2 separate regions of the Homo sapiens genome follow, and region 2 is linked to region 1. The links come from fine-mapping of genetic effects on gene expression. Tissue or cell type: whole blood. Region 1 holds a variant in brackets; the other region holds the start of a gene. All regions are shown on one strand. Distances are between the middles of the regions.

The links. PIP is the estimated chance that this variant, and not a neighbour inherited with it, causes the effect.
Region 2: it holds the start of GUCY1B1, and the variant in region 1 is fine-mapped to the expression of GUCY1B1 in whole blood (TOPMed, PIP above 0.99).

The regions. Positions count from the first base shown.
Region 1 is chr4:155,653,981-155,664,369 of GRCh38, forward strand. No RefSeq gene overlaps it. Among named protein-coding and RNA genes, the nearest start is that of GUCY1A1, 7.7 kb to the right of the region's middle. The variant G/T (reference allele first, on the strand shown) is at 4,953.
Region 2 is chr4:155,753,356-155,763,744 of GRCh38, forward strand. It overlaps GUCY1B1 (guanylate cyclase 1 soluble subunit beta 1), which reads left to right and starts at 5,666. Exons shown (of 14, transcript NM_000857.5): 1 at 5,666-5,788; 2 at 6,432-6,505. The coding sequence starts at 5,786. It overlaps LOC105377506 (a long non-coding RNA gene), which reads right to left and starts at 5,060. Exons shown (of 8, transcript XR_007058484.1): 1 at 4,835-5,060. RefSeq lists silencers at 5,844-5,993, 6,444-6,713.

The DNA of each region.
Region 1 (10,389 bases):
TTAAAAAAAAAGTGTACAAAGTCTGTGTATTTATTCTGTATAGTTGAAAGAATGTCTATTGGAAGAATTGTCTACCTGTGAAAAGATTGAATGATAAGACAAGTTTTACCCTATAAATCCTTTTTTCTTTTTTTATTTACTCATCTTAACTCCAAAAATAAAACAAACATTATTTGCAGAAGGAAAGCAGATAGCTAATGAGATAAAAATGTTCCCTCCGCTTCAGTGTGGTTAAAGTAGGTAATATCATCAGATAGCTCATTAAAAGTGCCTGGACATTGGCCATTTACTTTCCATGGCCTGTAGGCTCTAAATATTGTTCTGTAAAAGGGATACAAGTAAGATTGGAAGTCCAATACAAGTAAGATTGGAAGTAAGTCTGTTCTTACATGTTTCATCTCTGACTTACATGACAAACTTCAAGGATAGCAGATATGAAATATTTGGGGCTTCTTAATAGTATTTGTTGAATTATCAAAATGCACAAAACTACAATTAAAGTTTATTGATACAGTCATGTTTTCTTATAAGCTTTTTCCTTGTCTTCTTGGTTCCCTTTATTCTAATACCTAACTTAATTATGTGTGGATTTTAAGAAGTTCTTAATTTTTGTGTTTACGTTCATTGTTGGTATTGTTTGACAGGTTACTATTACAGTAAGAATTTTACTCTTTTCCTCCTAAAACACATCATGAGACTTTAAAAAGAATCGGAATCAAGCGAAAAACATCTGATTTTCTGAAATTTGAAGATACCAATCTTAGAAAACTTTAGTAAATACAATCATACCCTCATACCCTATTCTCTAGTCACCAAATCACTCCTCACCCTTCCCTTCCACACATTCAACAAATCTTAACATTAGAAACTCCTAATCTGCATCAGTCACTATGCTGGCACTCTGTATGACTTCACACATTTAGCCTCTCTGAGCTTCAATTTCCTAATCTGTAAAATTGGACTATTTATACTTCTATTTGGAAAATTACTAGACAGCACAGAATTCTCAATTGAAACATCAACTCTTCAAAATTATTCATGGCCCTTTATGAGTTCCCAAAGCACCCTCTGAGCATTTCTATATCATTTGTATCATTGTGCTGCAATTATTTTTCAAATTTCCTGTCCACCTCCAGACTGTGAAGTCCTGGGGAACCACGATTAGATCACAGTTTTAAAAAATCCCCAGTGGGCCAGGCTCGGTGACTCATGCCTGTAATCCCAGCACTTTGGGAGGCCGAGGTGGGCAGATCACGAGGTCAGGAGATGGAGACCATCCTGGCTAACAGGGTGAAACCCCGTTTCTACTAAAAATACAAAAAATCAGCTGGGCGTGGTGGCCGGCGCCTGTAGTCCCGGCTCCTAGGGAGGCTGAGGAATGAGAATGGCATGAACCTGGGAGACGGAGGTTGCAGTGAGCGGAGATCACACCACTGTACTCCAGCCTAGGCAACAGAGCGAGACTCTGTCTCAAAAAAATAAATAAATAAAATAAATTAAAAATAAATAAATCACCAGCGGTTAGGTTAACAAAGAATAAAATATAATTGAATCAAGTGAGGAAAGACTGAATAGATAAATTAATATCCATTCATGATATCCATATCATTTATTATATTAATTCATCTCATGGAAAGGTAGAATAAATATTTAAGTGTGTGAAGTTAATGAATATACAATATATTTGATTGAATTAATATTCATACCACTCGAATTAAACTTACCTAATCGAATCATAAAGAAATTGCAATAGAACTATGTTTCCTCTCAGTGCCAACTCTACCTCTCTGTGTTATTCATTATTTAGCCTGCTTTTTTTCTAATATTATCTCTCTATGCCTCAAACTTCTGGTTAATTATCTCAAAGCTGGGGGATTCATTTACAACTTAGATGGGAAAATTTAATAATCTGTAATAAATGTATGAACTAATTGGGCAAAAACAAACTTTTGCATTATTTGTGATAATAAATGTATTTTCAAACTTTGCTGCCGTGTCAGATTGCTGTTAGCAACTCTGCATCATTCTTGCCCCTTTGTAAACTTCCTTTTTCTCTATACTTTCTTTTGCAATGCAAGTAGGGAGCATGGAAAGGACAGTTCCCAGAATCCTCCACCAACAGGGTTTAATTTGGATTCAGAATTTATGTCAGATTTAGATGAAAGAGAACAGGAGAAGCACTGTTCTCCTCTGGCAGCAGAAGACACCTGCAGGGGCAGAGGACCTTGTTGAGATCTGTATCAACCTCATGCCTGCTGCAGGCAGCTGACATCCTCAAGGGTATGTTCCTCCTGGGATCCCTACATTCCTTCCCCAGGTCTTTCAGTAGTTCTATTAGCATCCCTTTCTGTTTGAAATGCGTAAAGTGATAGGTTTTCCAAACGAAAATGAAATCGGAGACAGTGGTTGTAACGAAACTTAAATATTTCATACTTGAGAGATTTAAGAAATAACAATCTATTGGCTGCACAGCTGACATTCCCTATTCTTCCTACCTTAACCACCTCCCAACAACCATCCTTCTCTGCTCTGTTTTTCTCCATAGCACATATTACCACCTGACATCCTAATATTTTATTTGTTAATCTTTTTAATCATCTGTTTTGTCATTGTGGAATGCCACAATAATAGGGATCCTTGCTTGTTCCCCAGTTTACAGAATAGTGCCTGGTTTATGATTGTTATTCAGTAAAAGTATTTGAATGAATGAATGAATGAATCTGACAAGAGTGTATTTTGCCTCTTTTTGAATGTCAGTCTACAGATAAAAGGGGGCTCTAATTATCACATGGAAAATCAGACCGTGCATACTTTAATTTTAAATAAGTCCTTGCCTTACCTGCCTAGCCCTCCAACTGCGTTCTTTCATTGTCCTATTATGATCACCATAATGCAAATAGTCTTAACTAGTTTGAAAAGGATGTTAATCAGCCCAACGCTGAGTACTTTTTGTCCATGGCTTCTCATTAAATTCTATTGTAATCTATGGTTTCTTGTAATTTAATCAAGATGAATTCAAAGTTGAGGTTCATAATTTTGATATTTCAGGTGCATAATCTCACTATATGAGGAATGTCTTCAAATGAATTAGAAAAACACTAATACCTCAACCAAGGGCAAAGGACATCAACGGACAGTCAAAAAAATAGGGGGTTGTGGTAATAATAATGACTAAATAAACATGTAAGATATTTAAAATCACTTATGAAAGAAATACACTTTGAGATTCACTTTTAATGAAAAATATCAAACATAAATCTTAAAAATAATAGCAACCATGTAGTTCATTCTTTACACAAAACAGATAAGATTATAAATTGATTAAAATATTAAATGATCTGACTAGTGGTATTAGTCACAATTAAATAACTCATTCTCTGAAACCCAAACTCTTGGGAACATATCAAAGAAAAATGTAGGACATGTGGACTATTTACAAAGTTGTTCATCTGTTTTTAATTATGTGTTGCAAATAACTTCAGTTAGTTTGTAGCCCTTTGCTTTATTCTTTTTGAGGAAAGGAAATACTTAAAAGTTTATCACTCTATTTCTTTGTTTGTATTTGACCTAAACATGTTACATATTTGTTGTTTTTTTCCTCACTATTCTTTCTTGGCAGTTAGAACTCCTGATTGGAAATTGTTCTTTCTGTACTACATCTTTAGAAATTATTTTATAGGAGGTATGTTCGTTTTAAAATCTCAAAGATTAACTTCTTTCCATCCCCACCAACCATTTCTTCAAAGTCAATTTTCCTGAATATAAGATCCTAAGGACAGTAATTTATCTCTCAGCATTTCTCGCACTATGAAGATTGTTTTCTTCCACCTTTAATTATTTCTGTTATGCAATTAGCAAAGCTGATAGTCAGTCTAATTGTCATTCCACTGTAGGTGATCTGATTTTCTCTCTGGTTGCTTTTAAGATTTATTTATCTTTGTTTGGTCCTTTTACCAAATGTATTTGTAAGTGGATTTTTAGATATTTTAAAATGTATTTATCTTTCTTGGAAATTGTTGGGCTAAGCAGAGGATGGGTGACTGAACTAAATTCTGGAAACTCTTAACCACTATCATGTTGAATATTGCCTTGCCACTAAATTGCTATTCTCTCCTTATAGTACCTTTCAAATGTCTTAACCTATCCTTCATATTTTAATTCATCTTTTTGTCTAAATTCAGTATTATTTCTTTATATATATTTTCCAGTTCATTAATTTTCTCTTCAGTTTTATCTAATCTATTTAATACATTCATGAAACTTTATTTCTAATTATTGTGTTTTTAATTTCTGGGAGTTCTTTTTGGTTTTAGTTTCAAACTGGTCAAGTCATTTATTTGGTTTCTTTGTTATGCTACAAATACATTTTATTTAAATATATATATTAAACATATATTCTGTTTTGAATAATTTCTGCTTTTATAGTCCTTGTTGGTCTGATTTTAAATTCTTTAGTTCTGCTTTCTATGATTTATGGCAGCTTTTTTCCTCATGTATTTGATAACTTCCTTATTACAGACTTGTTTTCCCTGATACTTTATTTGTAGTGATTATTTGAAGCTTATCTTTAAAGTGTATTTTCCTAGTGAGAATTTATGTTTGCTTCTGCCTGGCTCCTGGGGCATTCTCAACACGGACCACTTCAAATACAGTTTCTGCCTGGGGATTTTCAAGCCACAGAGTTAGTATAAATTTCAAATAAAAGACTGTATAAGTAGAGGCTTGTGCTCAGAAATTTTCAGTAGAGATGTGTTTTTTCCCTGCTCCATTATCAGCCAATACTTAAAGAGACAAGGTACTTTGTGTGCAAACACTCTCCTTCCCCACCCAAGGCTATTATTAGTGTGGTGTCATTTTCAATTTGCACAACTAGTTTTGTTTTCTGTCTCCCCTGCACATGTCACCCGATAACCTAGGCTCTAAGCCCACCAGTTATAAGTAGGTGACCTCAG[G/T]GCAATTGCCAGACACCATGCTTGCTTACCAATGGCACCCTTTCTCCTTGTTTCTGGTCTCATCACATTACCTTTTCTGAAGAGGCAGCCTGGTTAAGCCTTAAAAGCATATTTAAATTTTTATTCAGCCTGTCAGCTTTTCAGCACTAGGAAGGGTTTCTCTGCACATCTTCCATAGTGTTGGAAAGGGAAAGCTCCTTGCATTAATGTTACAATGAGACCAAAATAGAATACTCTAAAAAGTAATAAGAAAGAGATTTGGTAAGACATTATTTCTCTTAGGTAATATTGTCAACTGTTTAAACAAAGTATTTTATAAATATGAGAGCGGCAGCCATAGCTGTCATTTTCATAAAGTGAGATTTCAACAAGCCTGCCTCTGCATAATTTGCCTTTTCCCTATGTCAAAACAGAGTTCTCTTTACTTTCAGACTTGAATCAGTTCTTTTTTTAAGCCATGGCTCAGGATATGCCTTTTGGCCCTGTCTGGTGAGACTATCATTTAAGAGTATCTCAGTGTTTTTGGCTGCCTTTTACAGTTTTGAGATCTATGTGCTTCCCTTTTTCCAGGAGGAGAAGCAGGCATGAAACACACTTAGGAGCTAGGTTCAAAGAAAACATCTTGACTTCTAAGGCACAGTGAGAATCAAAAGCAAAACTCATACCCATTCATTAGATTTTTCGGATACAGTTACATTAGCTCATTAATACAAAACATCCCCAGTGAGTGGGTGTCCTGTGTGAGAATAAAGAAAATTTCCTGGGCTTATTTTTACAGGACAGCTTAATTGGTGGCATATGATTTTTCTCATACCATATTTTGTAGCTTTAAATTATGAAAGTATAATCTAAGAAGTAGAAAATGTTTTATCTCTTACAATACTTTTAAAGAGAGGGCACTTTAGCAAATAAAGTCTACTTTTTTAAAAAAAGTTCTTTGAAAGTTTACAAACTTTTTTTTATACAGATGACTCTCTCCTAAAGATCAGAAGCTCATATTACTTTTGAATATTTCTTCAAATATAAGGGCTCATGCTCATAGTCTCCACAATGAAAAAAAAACCTCATCTATAATAATTTTGAGTAAATGTGCCCTTCTAAATGTGATTGATGTTCTATTAAGGCTGTTTTTTTTTAACTCTGTTTTAACTCAGCTATGCAAGACCTCCTGAACTAGCAGACAGCCATATGGTTGAGCAAGATGCTTTGGAGCTTCAACTTCAGGAGCTTTTGGGTTGTTTACATGTCCAGTGTCTAAAAATAGAAGATGTTAAAAATTTTCAACTCTCTGTGAAAGGCTTTCATTTAATCAACAATTATTTTTGAATAGGTTTTGCCATGAAAGGAAGCAAGAATAAGACAACTTTTGTGACATTTGAAGAATTGGAAAAAAATCACCTAAGTATATTTTCCTGAATATTTCCTTTTATAAGTAACTTCATTGGATATATTTCCAATGCTTTGCTGACCTTCAGTCAAGTTTCTCTCTCCTTCCCTTCCTCTCTCCCTCCCTCCCCTTCTTCCCTCCTTTTCTACAAACGCATAATTAAATGAAAACACAAGACATCTATGTAGTTAGCCATTCTACTAGGAAATCAAGCTATTGAAACTCATATTCTCCACTAGTCACTTGGTAGCTGAAACTAATGTTAAGCAAAGACATCAAGAGATCAGTTTGATGTGCTAATATTGAAAACTCAAGCCTATTACATAATGGCATCACCAGAGGGCAAACACCCAAAGGCTTCTTCAATAAGATTACAACCTTGACATTTTTAGTATTCGTGTGATCCTCAACTCTCAGAATGATCTACAGATGCTTGTTAAAATACAGGTTTCTGGAGCCTACTCAAAGAATATGACTTAATAAATCTGAGCTGGTGATCTTTATTTTGATAATTCACAAGCTCCTTTCAGAGTAACCAGAATTATTAATACCCCAGGCTTATGAACCAGATTGCCTGAGTTTGAGTCCTAATTTTGCCACTTCCTAGCTGTGTGATTTTAGGAAAGATGCTTAATCTCCCTATACCCCAATTTTCTCATCTGTAAAGCTGACATGATAATAATGCTCACCTTCAAAGGGATTTTAGGGGAAACAGATAATGTAATGCATACAAAGTGCTTAGAATAATGCCTGGTGGATAATTATCATCCTATTATGTTAACTTATGATTAACGATGATTCTCTCTTGACAATTAAAATGTTAGAACAACAGCAAAGAGATCATTCGTCCTTATTTTGATAATTCGTTTTGTTTGATTGGCACCTGGCATTAGTTTTCTATGTAAAAAAAAAATAGTAAAGTCAAAGACCCATAAAACACGGACTCTGTCTTCAAATGGCCAATGATTTTGGAAAGTCTAGAAATCTCATAAGAAGCAAGATAGCGAATGGGTACTAAGCTAGAGGAAAAAAACAATATTGAAAACAGAGTGTTGTTGAACCAACTTAGAATGAGAGCTTAACTACAGCTATCTTTCCATGGAATTTTTTTTAACACATCATTTCTTCATTTGGCTGAAGCTTTCTTTTGAAACTGATCAACTTTTTTGAGATATTTTGTGTTGAAATATCTTGAGTTATACTCAAAAACACCTTTGAACAAGTTTCATATTTATTTTGCAGTAGCCATTAACTCATTCATCTTACTTTTTTATATGACACTGTATCCACTCTATATTTTTTCAGTTTTCCAAAATCATTGAATTTGTAAGTTACCCCTATGGTAGAGTATTTTTGAAACAGCATTAAATATGTCAGGGCCTATAGGATACCATTTTGTTTTAATTCAAAGTGCATACAATTTATGGAATACTAGTGCCTATGTAATGATATCAGGGCTAACTATTGGCAACTAAAAGTCAGTATAACTATTATTTTAATATAAGTTAAACATATAGAGGCCTCCTGTATCTAGACATGTAGCAGGCTTTTCAAATATGAGAAATGATAAAATCTCTCAGACTTGCAAAGTAAAAAGACACGTTTACCATGACAAAAGATGACATAGCAAAATTTGCAATGTGGATAGGTTGAGGATTTCCCAGATAAAGTTCTGGTTCTTTTTCGGCTTAACAGTTCTTCCTTCAATCTTTCTCTGTTTTCTCACATTTTACAATAGCAAGAAGAAAGTAGGCTGTGCCTTCACCATTTTGCTTAGGAATCTTCTCAGTTAAATATCCAAGATCAATATTTCCACATATCTGTGAGACATAATTCGGCTAAGTTTTCTGCCACCATATACTGACATATTAGTCTGTTCTCACGCTGCTAATAAAGACATACCTGAGGCTGGGTAATTTTTCAAGAAAAAGAGGTTTAAGGGACTCACAGTTCCACATGGCTGGGGAAGGCCTCACAATCATGGCGGAAGGTGAAGGAGGAGCAAAACCACGTCTTATGTGGCAACAAGCAAGACAAGTTGTGCAGGGGAACTCCCGTTTATAAAACCATTATATCTCGTGAGACTTATTCACTACCAGGAGAACAGTACGGGGAAAATTGCCCCCATGATTCAATTATCTCCACCTGGCCCTGCCTTTGACATGTGAGGATTGTTAAAATTCGAAGTGAGATTTGAGTGGGGACACAGCCAAACCATATCAACTGATGATCTCCTTTCCTACAACTTCCAATAACACTTTCCTCATTTCCACCTGTATCCTGTTCGTAGCACTTTTAATGTCCATATTTGTACCAGCAGTCTGTTCATGATGATTTATGATGATTTATGTATTCCCTAAGATGATACAGATTTTCTCTACCATGCCTCTCACTTTCTTCTGAGGCCTCACTAGCAGAGTTAGCATCCATGTTTCTACTAACAATGTGTTCAAGGCAATCTAGGTTTTTATTTTATTTTATTTTTTATTATTATACTTTAAGTTCTAGGATACATGTACACAACGTGCAGATTTGTTACATATGTATATATGTGCCATGTTGGTGTGCTGCACCCATTAACTCATCATTTACATTAGGTATATCTCCTAATGCTATCCCTCCCCCATCCCCCCACCCTGCAATCTAGGTTTTTAAAATGCTGGCTACACACAATTCTTCCAGCCTTTGCCATTGTCCAATACCAAAGACACTTTGACATTTAGTTTCCTATTACTATTGTAACAAATTACCCCCGAACTTAGTGCTTAATACAACACACGTTTATTATCTTACATCTGTGGAAGTCTGAAGTTTGAAATGAGTCTCATTAGACTAAAACCTAGGTGATGGCAGGGCTACTTTCTGTCCCAGAGACTCTAAGGGAGGATAATTTTCTAGCCTTATTCATCTTCTAGAGGCTGCACATATTCCTTGGCTAAGCCCCTTCTATTTTCTTTTCTTTTCTACTTTTTTTTTGTTTTGAGACGGAGTCTCGCTCTTCTCGCCCAGGCTGGAGTGCAATGGCGTGATCTCGGCTCACTGCAACCTCCACCTCCCAGGTTCAAGCAATTCTCCTGCCCCAGCCTCCCGAGTAGCTGGGATTACAGGCACCTGCCACCATGCCCAGCTAATTTTTTGTATTTTTAGTAGAGACAGGGTTTCACCATATTGGTCAGGCTGGTCTCGAACTCCTGACCTCAAGTGATCCACCCGCATCCGCCTCCCAAAGTGCTGGGATTACAGGTGTCAGCCACTGCACCCAGCCCCCTTTCTATTTTCAAAGCCAGCAATTGCTTATCAATTCTTTCTAACATAGCATCACTCCGACTCTGACTGACTCTATTGCTTTAATCTTTCTTTTACAAGGACCCTTTTGATTGCATTTGGTTCACCCACCTAATCTGGAATAATATTCCCATCTCAAGACTAGCTGATTAGTAACCCTAATTCTATCTGCATCCTTACTTCTCTCTTGCCATGTAAAATTGCATATTCACAGGTTCTAAGGATTAGCAGGTAGACATCTTTGGAGTGCCATTATTCTACCTACCACTGTATTTACTGCTCACAAACACCAACTCCTTGGCAAAAATATAGTGGACAGCATTTCTGTTACCATCAGAATCTCTTCCAGTCCAGGCTGCTTTGTGAATGTCTATACCAGGACTAGAAATGCGTGGACGCCAACCTAATAAGATCTAGTTTTTCTAACTAAAGCTTTACATTCATACAAAAGAGACATTTTGGAGTCTTTGCATCATCTTACTGCAAGTTACCAGTGTAAACTTTAACCAGGTACATTAAAACAAATTGAAAATGAATAATACTAAGAAAAGGAGGAAATAAGGAGCCAGAAGTTTATCTTATTTTTCTTATATTTGAGAGGTTATCCTAATTTGGTAAACCATACAATCCATAGTTTGTTCGTTTGCTAAAAATAAAACAAAGCTCTGACCCTGACATATATGTAACACTTCTCTCATTTCTACCCTTTTACTGTTCTCTATCTCGTTCTTAATTCCCCTTGGTTTATGGATTTTTTATGGTCCA
Region 2 (10,389 bases), 99 kb after region 1:
CAATGTTTCATATGTGAGTCCTTGGCTTATTGTTACTAACTCCAAACAATCGGTAACAGAGTTATGTAGTCCTTTAAATTTTACAAGAAGCTTTCGAAGATGTCTCATTTGATCCTCTTAGTATCTTAGTTGAGCAAGGTGGGCCAGGCAATGCTATCACCATTATAAAATGGGAAGTTCCAGGCTCAGACAGGTTGAATTGCCAAGCAAGTAACTGACAAGGGTGATCTAGATCTTTTAGTTTGACATGGTGCAGCTCTTTTCACTATGCATTCACTGTCAGTGGACATATTACATTTATATAAGGTGGACAAAAGGGGTTTAGTTTCATTAATCATTGACTTCAAACACAGCAATAACAACCACCACCTCAAAAACAATATTAACTAACAGTTTGTGAGGACTTAACATTTTGCAATCATTGCTTTAAGCATCACACTTGCAAACCTGTGGGGTAGGTAATATTTTTAACCTTCTCAGCACTGGAGTATATTGATCTGTTATTTTTCCTGTTTTACAAGTGAGGAAACTGTAGTTCAAATACATTAAGTAATTTGTCCAATGGTTGAAAACAGGCAGTCTGACTAAAGAATCTGTACAATTAACTCCTACACTAAACTGTCCCCATAGCTAATTTTTGTTTTTTAAATCAAATAAAGTTACAAAAAGAAGCAACCAAATATTTTAATTAGTGGCTCTTATTCCCTGCTATTTTCTATTTATATCTATAATAATAAGTAGTTTCAACATAGACTAGAGAAGAACATTATTTTAATATAGTATCTAGAGGCTTTTGAGAGTTATGGACAGCTTTTGAAATCTAGATTCCAACTTCCACTGGGCGAGACTATGGGAAAGAAAGTATATTTAGCTCTACTTTGATGGGAATCTTAATATCCTCCACACTTTCTGAGGACAACAATTCATAACTTTACTAATTATACTTCTTGGCTAAGATTTTAAGTTTTCACTGTTCCCCAACAAGTTCATAAAGAGATTTCCAGATATAGGAAAATATCATTGACTAAATGACCTCCAAAATACCTTTCAGTGCTCAAAGTCAATCAATCTTTGACATAATCATGTTAGATCTATCCTTAATAAACTAAAGAAAAAGATTAAGATAATCTCTCCCAGCCATGTACAAGCTTAGGCTGTAAAGAAGATGAAAACAAGTTAGTTTTTATTTTAATCAATTTGACTTCAGAAGCAAAACTTTATAGCTCAATCTGGTATTCATAAGCTTTTCTTGAAAATGAAACATATTTTTATTTAATTTCATATACTCCCAGTATGTTATAGTGATGTGTTGATTTAACTTAATGCTTTTACTTATTATAACATTGATACTAAGCATCATCTTTAATTCTCTTTTAATTTCTTTTAATTTTCATACATAATTGTTTAAACCTTATAAATAAATGGATATACATATATATGTATGCATGACTAATGTTTTTTGTTTATAAGTTCTGATGGCAAGGTAAATATTAAAAGAATTTGATGTAGAAAAAAGTAATTTAAAAAGTGCTTCTTTTAATATTCAATACTACCTTTTTCATATGACAAAACTTACAGTTCATTGGCAAGTTAACAATAAATCTGAATGTCACTTCTTTAGGAATCTGAATTCTTGGATCTCTCTTTGTTCTATTGATCTAGAATCACATCACCGAATGTGTCATTTAGAATTTGCTTTTCTCTTTGCTTGTAAGTATTCTGAATTCCTTGCTTGAAGTATTGAGTGACTATATTAGCAAAAATAATGACAACAGATGTGATTATTGTGCGACTAACCAAGACCAGCAGCAGAAGCTTCACAAAGAATCAATATTCGGCTCTTAGCCACAGAGATTAAAGAGGCACATGAATATAAAGCAAATCATTGTATAAGAAATAGTTGAAATGAAATGACATGCTGCTCCATAAAATGATCTAAAAATGGAAGCCACAGAAAAAACTGGCAAAACACCAGAGCTTTGACAAACACATGCACAGACCTGGGAACACCCCCAAATATATATGTATCTTCCTTTATCCTTAATCAAAGGTTTCTAATTTTCACATTAACTAGCAAAGCCTTGAAAACAATGATTACAACACTTTATTTATTTATTTATTTTTGAGACGGAGTCTCGCTCTGTCACTCAGGCTGGAGTGCAGTGGCGCAATCTGGGCTCACTGCAAGCTCCGCCTCCCAGGTTCACGCCATTCTTCTGCCTCAGCCTCCCAAGTAGCTGGGACTACAGGAGACCGCCACCACGCCCAGCCAATTTTTTGTTATTTTTAGTAGAGACGGGGTTTCACCGTGTTAGCCTGGATGGTCTCGATCTCCTGACCTCGTGATCCACCCGCCTCGGCCTCCCAAAGTGCTGGGATTACAGGCGTGAGCCACCGCGCCCGGCCGATTACAATACTTTTAATACTTAACTTACCAAAGTAATTTATTTTTATTCGCTGAAAATGTGAGTCACTTCAGCTGACATTTCTGAAAGCCACATATTGCCTTTTTACTTATTGTTCATTCATTAGACTGAACTTCATGTTGATTTTAGGGCTGGCTAAGCCATTCCCTAAGCTCTTCTTTTTCATCTTTAACTGATCCTCCTCAGCTTGGGGCATACATACAAGAATGCAATGCATTGTTCAGAGAATATAGCATAATCTACTTCCTGATATGATTCCTATGCTACTTGGCCAGCAGTGATGACAACAGGTAGGGAGCTTTTATAGAAGAATGGTGACCCCTCTTTTGAGATCCTCTACAGCTGGCAGGCATCCTTCTGTCCCTGAACATCACAGCCTGTGTAATATCTTGTAGGCCAAACAAAAGTCAGTAAATGTTTAGTGTCTAGAACTTCTTTTAGATTCAGAATGAATATAAGACAATTGGAAAATAAAACAGTAAAAACATTTACAAATGCAAAAATGTGTTGGACAAAAACAACAACAAGTGCAAAAAGTTATTGGACAAAAGGGAAAGTGAGGGTAGAAGAACTGAAATAGAGAGAAAGAGACAGAGAGAAAGGGACATTGGCAGAAATGCTCATTATTCATTTCCTCTCATATCTTTCTCTAAGTGAGCTTTCCTCATTTTTCATTCCCAGAGAACAATTCAATCTCCTTATCTTTTGCCTATGTAAAGTTTAAGGTGGAGGACACCACAACACACCGTAAACCAGAGAGCATGGGTCCATTGCTGCTCAAAGGTGAACAGATAAGAGACATAGTTTTTTTTTTTAAGTTTTTTTAGCAAGTTAAAAGTTATTTTATGTATATTATTAAAAAGTCAAATAACAACAGATTCTGGCAAGGTTATAGAGAAAAGGGAACTCTTATATAGTGCTGGTGAGAATGTAAATTAGTTCAGCCATTGTGGAAAGCAGTTTGGTGATTTCGCAAAGAACTTAAAACAGAAACATCATTTGACCCAGCAATCTCATTATTGAGTATATACCCAAAGGAGTATAAATCATTCTACCATAAAGGCACATGCATGCATATACGTTCATCACAGCACTAGTCACATGGAATGAAATAAACTATTCACAAAATGAATACTTGTGAATATATGTGAATTAATATGTGAATTCACTATATGCAAAGACATGGACTCAATCTAGATGTCCATCAGTGGTAGACTGGATAGAGAATGTGGTACATATATACCATGGAATACTATGCAGACATCAAAAAGAATGAGATCATGTCCTTTGCATCAACATGGACGGAGCTGGAGACTATTATCCTATGTAAATTAACAGAAACAGAAAACCAAATACCACATGTTCTCACTTGCAAGTGGGAGCTAAACACGGAGTACACATGAACACAAAGAAGGGGACAATGACCACTGGGGCCTACTTGAGGATGGAAGGTGGGAAGAGGGTGAGGATCAAAAAACTATTTGTTGGGTACCATGCTTAGTGCTTGGGTGACAAAGTAATCTGTACACCAAACCCCCAAGACATGTAATTGGCCTATATAACAAACCTGCATATGTGCCCCTGAAACTAAAATAAAAGTTAAAAAAAATTCAGTTATGTAACAGTAAAGAAAATTCATCTGTGTAGAAAAATAATCAAAAGATACAGAAAGTTATAAAAAGTAAGAGTCATGGCCATTCCAGCCACTGGTTCTAATTACAGACGATAGCCATATCAACACTTCCTGTGTTTCCTCCCAAACCATTATTCTTACAGCAACATGTATGTGCCTGTGTTATTACCCACATAGCACCTTACTGTATACTAACTCTAAAAAATGGAAAATGATTACATTCTTGTGGTGTTTTGTAAACCTGACAATACTTTTCTGCATCATCATTTTCTAGTCACCCTCCTGCTTTTTCATGGTTGTTTAATGTGCCATTTTAATGGTTCAAAATTAGTGGTTAATTGTTGTTAAATAATGATTAATGTTTTAATAGTTGTTTAAAACAAGGTGTTAGATTGTATGAAAGGCTGTAATCTATTTACTCATTCCACCAATAATGGAAATTTTTAAAGTAATTTGTTGTTTTGTTTGTTTGCTACATGCCACTATTTCTGTATCAGTTTCCTTCATCATAGCTCTCTCGGTGCTGATGTCAGCACAATCTTATTGTTTTGACATTTTTCTCTAACCATATTGAGACTGTTCTCACAACAAAATATGCACATCTTAAAATACCATCTGGCTTCTCAGGTCCACTTGAGACTGGTGACCTCACTTTTGACCTTGCCCTAAAAGTCAACTGGAGTCCATATACCTCAGGTACAAACAGCTTTAATAAGCTGCCACTTCCTGTTCCTCTCATCTTCTCTCTATGGCAGGACTCAGAGCATTAACTAACCTAAGGGCCTGGTAGAATGTAAGCTGGAGGTAGAGTAGTTAAAGTCTGTGCATTTTGTACTGGTCATTTTCCAGTTCGTCTGTTGCTAAGAAACAGCAACAGAGGCCCGCTCTAGAGGGTTACAAACTCCCTGGAATTATGGCTCCCGGACATGGTGTAGGGAAAGGTGTCCCACAGGGATCAAGCCTAGAATATCGCTGGATCTTGTACAGTTTAGTAAAGGGCAGGACTGGATTTAACATAACGTCCACCAAACTACATTACTGAAAATTTTTGGTGCTTCACTCAACTAGTCTCATTGACTAGAAGTGAAAATATGTTTTTCTCAATATTACCAGCTTTAAATTTGCCATAAACTGTTGTGGGACCAAGCCACAGAGGAAATGTTTTTCCGCTAGACAAAGATAAGCATGAGGATGCCAGCAACAGAGGATATTCCTTTTAAGGTCTGTCCATTGCAAAGTACACACGTACACGCTCACACAACAAACACGCCCTGTTCCCTTTTGCTTGTGTTAACCACTGAGGGCAGATCTCTGAATAATAATACATTTAGTGGGTCCACAAGAGCTGCATTTCCTCTGCTCCAGAATTCATGCAAGGAGCACGGCTGGGGCTTCTCCACTGTCATTGTTATGGCCTCAAATGAAGGCCTTGTCACCAGGCGGGGGCGGGAAGGCACTGGAGCGCAGCAGCATTGAGAGCATCCGAATTCCCTCCTCTGTCCCTGATTGGTTGAAGAACTGGGGAGCACCGACCAGCCCCCTGCGGCTCGACTCGCCATTGGCTGGGAAGAGGTGGCAATCAGGGCGGGCCAAGGCGGCTGTTCTCGCTCCAGCTCGATGCTGCCTCCCCGGCCCGGTTGCGCTGTAGCCGCTGCCGCCTCTGCCTGGGTCCCTTCGGCCGTACCTCTGCGTGGGGGCTGCCTCCCCGGCTCCCGGTGCAGACACCATGGTAAGTGCTCTCAGCCGGGTGCGGCCCGAACCTCACCCCTCCTCGGCCGGCCTGGCAGCGAGGGAACTGGCCGCGCAGCCGGAGCTTGGCTCGGGGGCCCTGGGCGCTCACTGCCGGCCACGGGAGCAGCCTCACTCCTTGCCCGCGCCCAGTCAGGGGAGGTGGGAACGCCGCGAGTCGTGGCGGGGGCGATCGGTGCCTTTGCTTCCCAGGCGGGTTTGCCGCTCCACACCGCAGCTTCCTGAGCTCGGGAAGGGGAGGTGCGGCGGAGGCGTGGGGTCTTCCCGGCTCTGGCCGGCCCCACCAGTGTGGGAGGCTGAGCGCCAGCGGAAGGGAAGGCTCCGGGTTCGCGTCCCCGCGCTGCCCCCGATGCCCAGCCTCTCCCGGAGCGGTGACAGGTGAGGAGGGTGGGAAGATAGCGTGGGGGTGGGGCGGATGGTGACGGGGAGAATCCACCAGGGATTGGGGGGTTGCGCCCCCACGATCCGACTCCTTTAGTGCATAGTACCCCTAAGGGAGAGGAGTCAGGGGCGGGGTGAAAGGTTAAGCCAGCGCCATGGGAGCAGAGGCAGCAGCCTCGCCCCCAAGCCGCTTCTCAGGTACAGCGGGTCCCTGACGCTCAAGTCTCTCCCTGTCCCCGCAGTACGGATTTGTGAATCACGCCCTGGAGTTGCTGGTGATCCGCAATTACGGCCCCGAGGTGTGGGAAGACATCAAGTAAGTGGCCGGCTACCCTGGCTGTGGCCCAGGTCGGCGCCCAGTGTGGGAGGCCCCCCGCGCCTCGCCTGGTCCTCAGCCTGCTGGCCGGGTCGCGGGCGCGCATCCTTGGAGGTGCCTCCGCGCCTCGCTCCCGGCTCGCTGCAGCTGCGCTCCCACGCTCCGGGACTGGAACCAGGAGGGGAGGGGCGGCTGGGGCGGGGCTGCGAGGGCGAGAACCGCGGAAAGGAGCCCCTAGGGGTCACCACGGCTTCCCGACCCGGCCTGAGCGTGGGAACGCGCTGCCGGCGCTCCCAGGCTCAGCAGGCCGGGCAGCTCCCACGCGTGCAGAGCCCCGAGGGACCACACGGGCCTCCGCGAGGTTCCTGCGCCCGGAGGCCTTAGAAACAAACGGAAGACTTTGGCTCCTTTATGATTTACACACCTGGCGTAAGTTAGGCCTTTTTGGTATGCTGAAACACGCGGGAGATTATTTCTTGAGCAACAGTGAATTAAGCGCATTTATTCATTTTTAAATAAAGTGAAAATTGGAAGTTTTTTGTTTTCCCCAAATCCCACTGCCCACCCCCCCCGCCCCAACCCCTATCCCCCGTTTTTTTCTACTGTGTTGAAGACTTAACAGTTCTAGGAGGCATTCTACTTTCAGTCCTGGAGCTTTGAGCCCAGTACTGGGGATGTGAACGGAAATACCACACCCACCTGAGAGTTTAAACCTGTTGGAATGACTGATGGGTCAGCATGTCTGCAGGCAGGTTGACTATTTCACTCTAATAAAGTTGTCTCTCCTTTTTCCTCTCACTCTCAAAAAATTTGCATTTAACTTATGGTACAGCTGACCACCACCAACTAGCTACTCCAAAACCCTATTTATGGATTTTCATATTAGAGCAACAGTCAGACTATCACATTGTAACAAAGGTGGAAGGAAGGGTTTCCTGGGTGGGCAGATGGGAATACACTGTTATTATTCACTCTGATTTCCTGTACTTAGTGATTTCATTTTGTTGTCTCAGGTAGGTGAGGCTTCCATGCTGTTTTTCCCTAAGCACATTACAATTATTAGCAATCAATTCTAACAGGCCTTATTATGCAGTTACATGATGGTGATTTCTCATAACGATCTGTTTCCATAGAAATGACCAGGGTTATATATTAAGCACGAAAATGTAACTTTTCTTTCCCCTGGATCTGTATCACTGAGCGTTTCTTTCATGTTTCAGAAACCATTTGTATTATCCACAGGGCATATTACCTACATATTATAAACAGAAGCCGAGATTTGGCAAGTATGTGGTTGAATCCAATGAGAACATAGGCACCAAAAGTTACTTTAGGATTTGAATTTTCTGGCCATCTTAATACCATTATAATTTTTATTTTGCTTAGTAGACAGATATCAACAAGGCAGACATCAAAAAAAGATTGTTAACAGTATAACTTAACTACCGAATTATTTTTAAGCCACTTCCTTTGTAAATTTATAAATGCTATATATATATATATTCTCCATATGATGCTTTTGCATCTGTAAGATAGAAATTCCCAAATTTGCTGGTAGATATGCTATGACAATGAATATGCTTAGAATTTTTAGAGCAGAATAAAAGATGGCTATTATGATTAAACAGTCATTATGTAATTTAACCAGATTTAGATTGTATATCCTAGCCATTATCAGTTTAGATCACTGTTAAATACAGAGATGAAAAATAATACTTTATAGAGTAATGTATCAGACATTTTAAAAAGTTAAAATTATCCAGAGATTTGTTTATATTGCTTATATTTTCCCAGAGGAAGTCCAAATATGTAAAGATTCAATTGACGAGAATTTAACTCTGCAAAATCAAGCTGAGAATATTGTTCCATTCTACTTTAAAAAATTATTTATTAACTTACTAATTTATCTTTAAGTAGCTTCCAACAGTATTCATAATTTGTCTAAAGGATAAAAATTCCAATCATCCACAACACAATTTTTCTGGTAAAAATGAAACAAGTTATATTGGTCTTTTCTTAAATAAAATTGCCTCAAGGTTATGCCCCTGCAAGGGAAAAAGTGTTAGTCACACTGGTGTTGGTAATCCAGGTGTTAGTGTTGATTCTTTATTTGTCTAAGCATCTTTTGGTGGACCCCAGCTGATCTTGGGTGTGGTTTAGTGTCTGGGCTAGAGAACATGGTTGAACTCTCTGCACTGAGGGCATTAAAGCTGCTCCTTGGTTTCCAACCCAATACCCCTGAGTAATTACTAAATGCTCCCTGGGAGAGCATTTGCTTTCCACAGAAAAGAATCTTGCTGCCTGGGGAGAGGGGAGGAGAACCTGGAGGAGTGTAATTGAAAAATGCTCCTTGGGTGATTCTGGTTCCTCCTCCCCTCCCTACCCTCTGCTTCAGGGAATATTAAAGCAGTCATTGGTCCAAGATGCTTTCAGTTTTAACTTTTATAAGAAATTGAATATAAGAGGAAAAACATTTTTTTTTGTCTCAGTAAGTACCAAACTCTTATTTTTTCTTTTGGTCTTTGAGAAACTATCTAAATTGATGTTTATACAAATTTACATTATACTTTTTTGCTTCACTAGGAAATGGCCATCCATCCTTCATGAGAAAGGATGGGAAAAGATGCCAAACATTTAATGACAAATAAAACCCTAAGTAACAGATTCCAGACAGCAGACAGAAAATTCTAAGTGGATAAGGGCCAAAAATGCTTCATTGTAAACTCAGTATCCACTTACACTCTTACCAACAATATAACCATTTCACAAAAGCTTTGAATTCCTCTTAAGAAGAAGAAAAATTGTCTAGACCAAGGGCCAGCAAACTTTCTCTTAAAGGGCCAGATAGTAAATGTTTTAGGTGTTACAGGCCAAGGTAAAACTGAGGATATTATGTAGGAATCAATATAACTATTAAAAATATAACCACTTAAAAATATTAAAACCATTGTTAGCTCTTGGACCAGGAAAACGCAAACAAACAACCAAACCAGACAAAGTGGGCTACATGTGATCCATGGGCTATAGTTTGATGACCTCTGATTTAGACCATAACAAATGTGAAAAAGCAAAAGAGACCTCTGAATCCATTTCAAAGTTTTTTTTGTTGATTTCATTTCAATATTCAAATAGTCCTTTTAAGAGGCTATGATTTCTAAGTAATGACAAAAAAATTATCAGGGTAGAAAATAAATAAAGTTAGGAGTGATACATCCTAGAAAAGCACCTAAATACTTGATTTCCCATCTCTGTTATCCTTCCATCAGCCCTGACTAAACTCATCATTGCGTCAAATTACTGGGTTTAATTTTAGATTTTTTCTCTGCTTTCTTTCCATATTTTTTCTGGGTAGCAGCGGAGGGAAGCAGTTAGAGACAGGTCTTGCTGTGTGCCCAAGCTGGTCTCAAACTCCTGTCATCAAGTGATCCTCTTGACTCGGCCTCCCAAAGTATTGGATTATATGCACCACCACACCCAGCCCAACTTTAGATTTTTTAACCTCACTGAAACATACAAATTAGGAAGATAGATCCAAAACACTGAAAAATCCCAAATGATTAAAAGTCTGTAAAGAAAGTACACTGTCCTGACTTAAATAAATCAGATAAAACGTTTATCTTTAATGAGTATAGTCAAGTGTTTTAGGCACTGAGGATAGAAAAGCAATGATGTAATCCTTACCTTCAAAAAAAAAATTCTAGAGATTTCATGATATTTTAGTCTTATTATTTTGTTTTTATTTTCCTGCCTATAACTCAAATACGGTAACCTTTTGTCTGTTGGATAGCATATACTTCCAGTTTTGAAATTAATGTGTCTTGTTAAATTTGCTAATCACAAATTAATCATTATGGTTCAAATAAGGAAACACTTTGCTATAAACT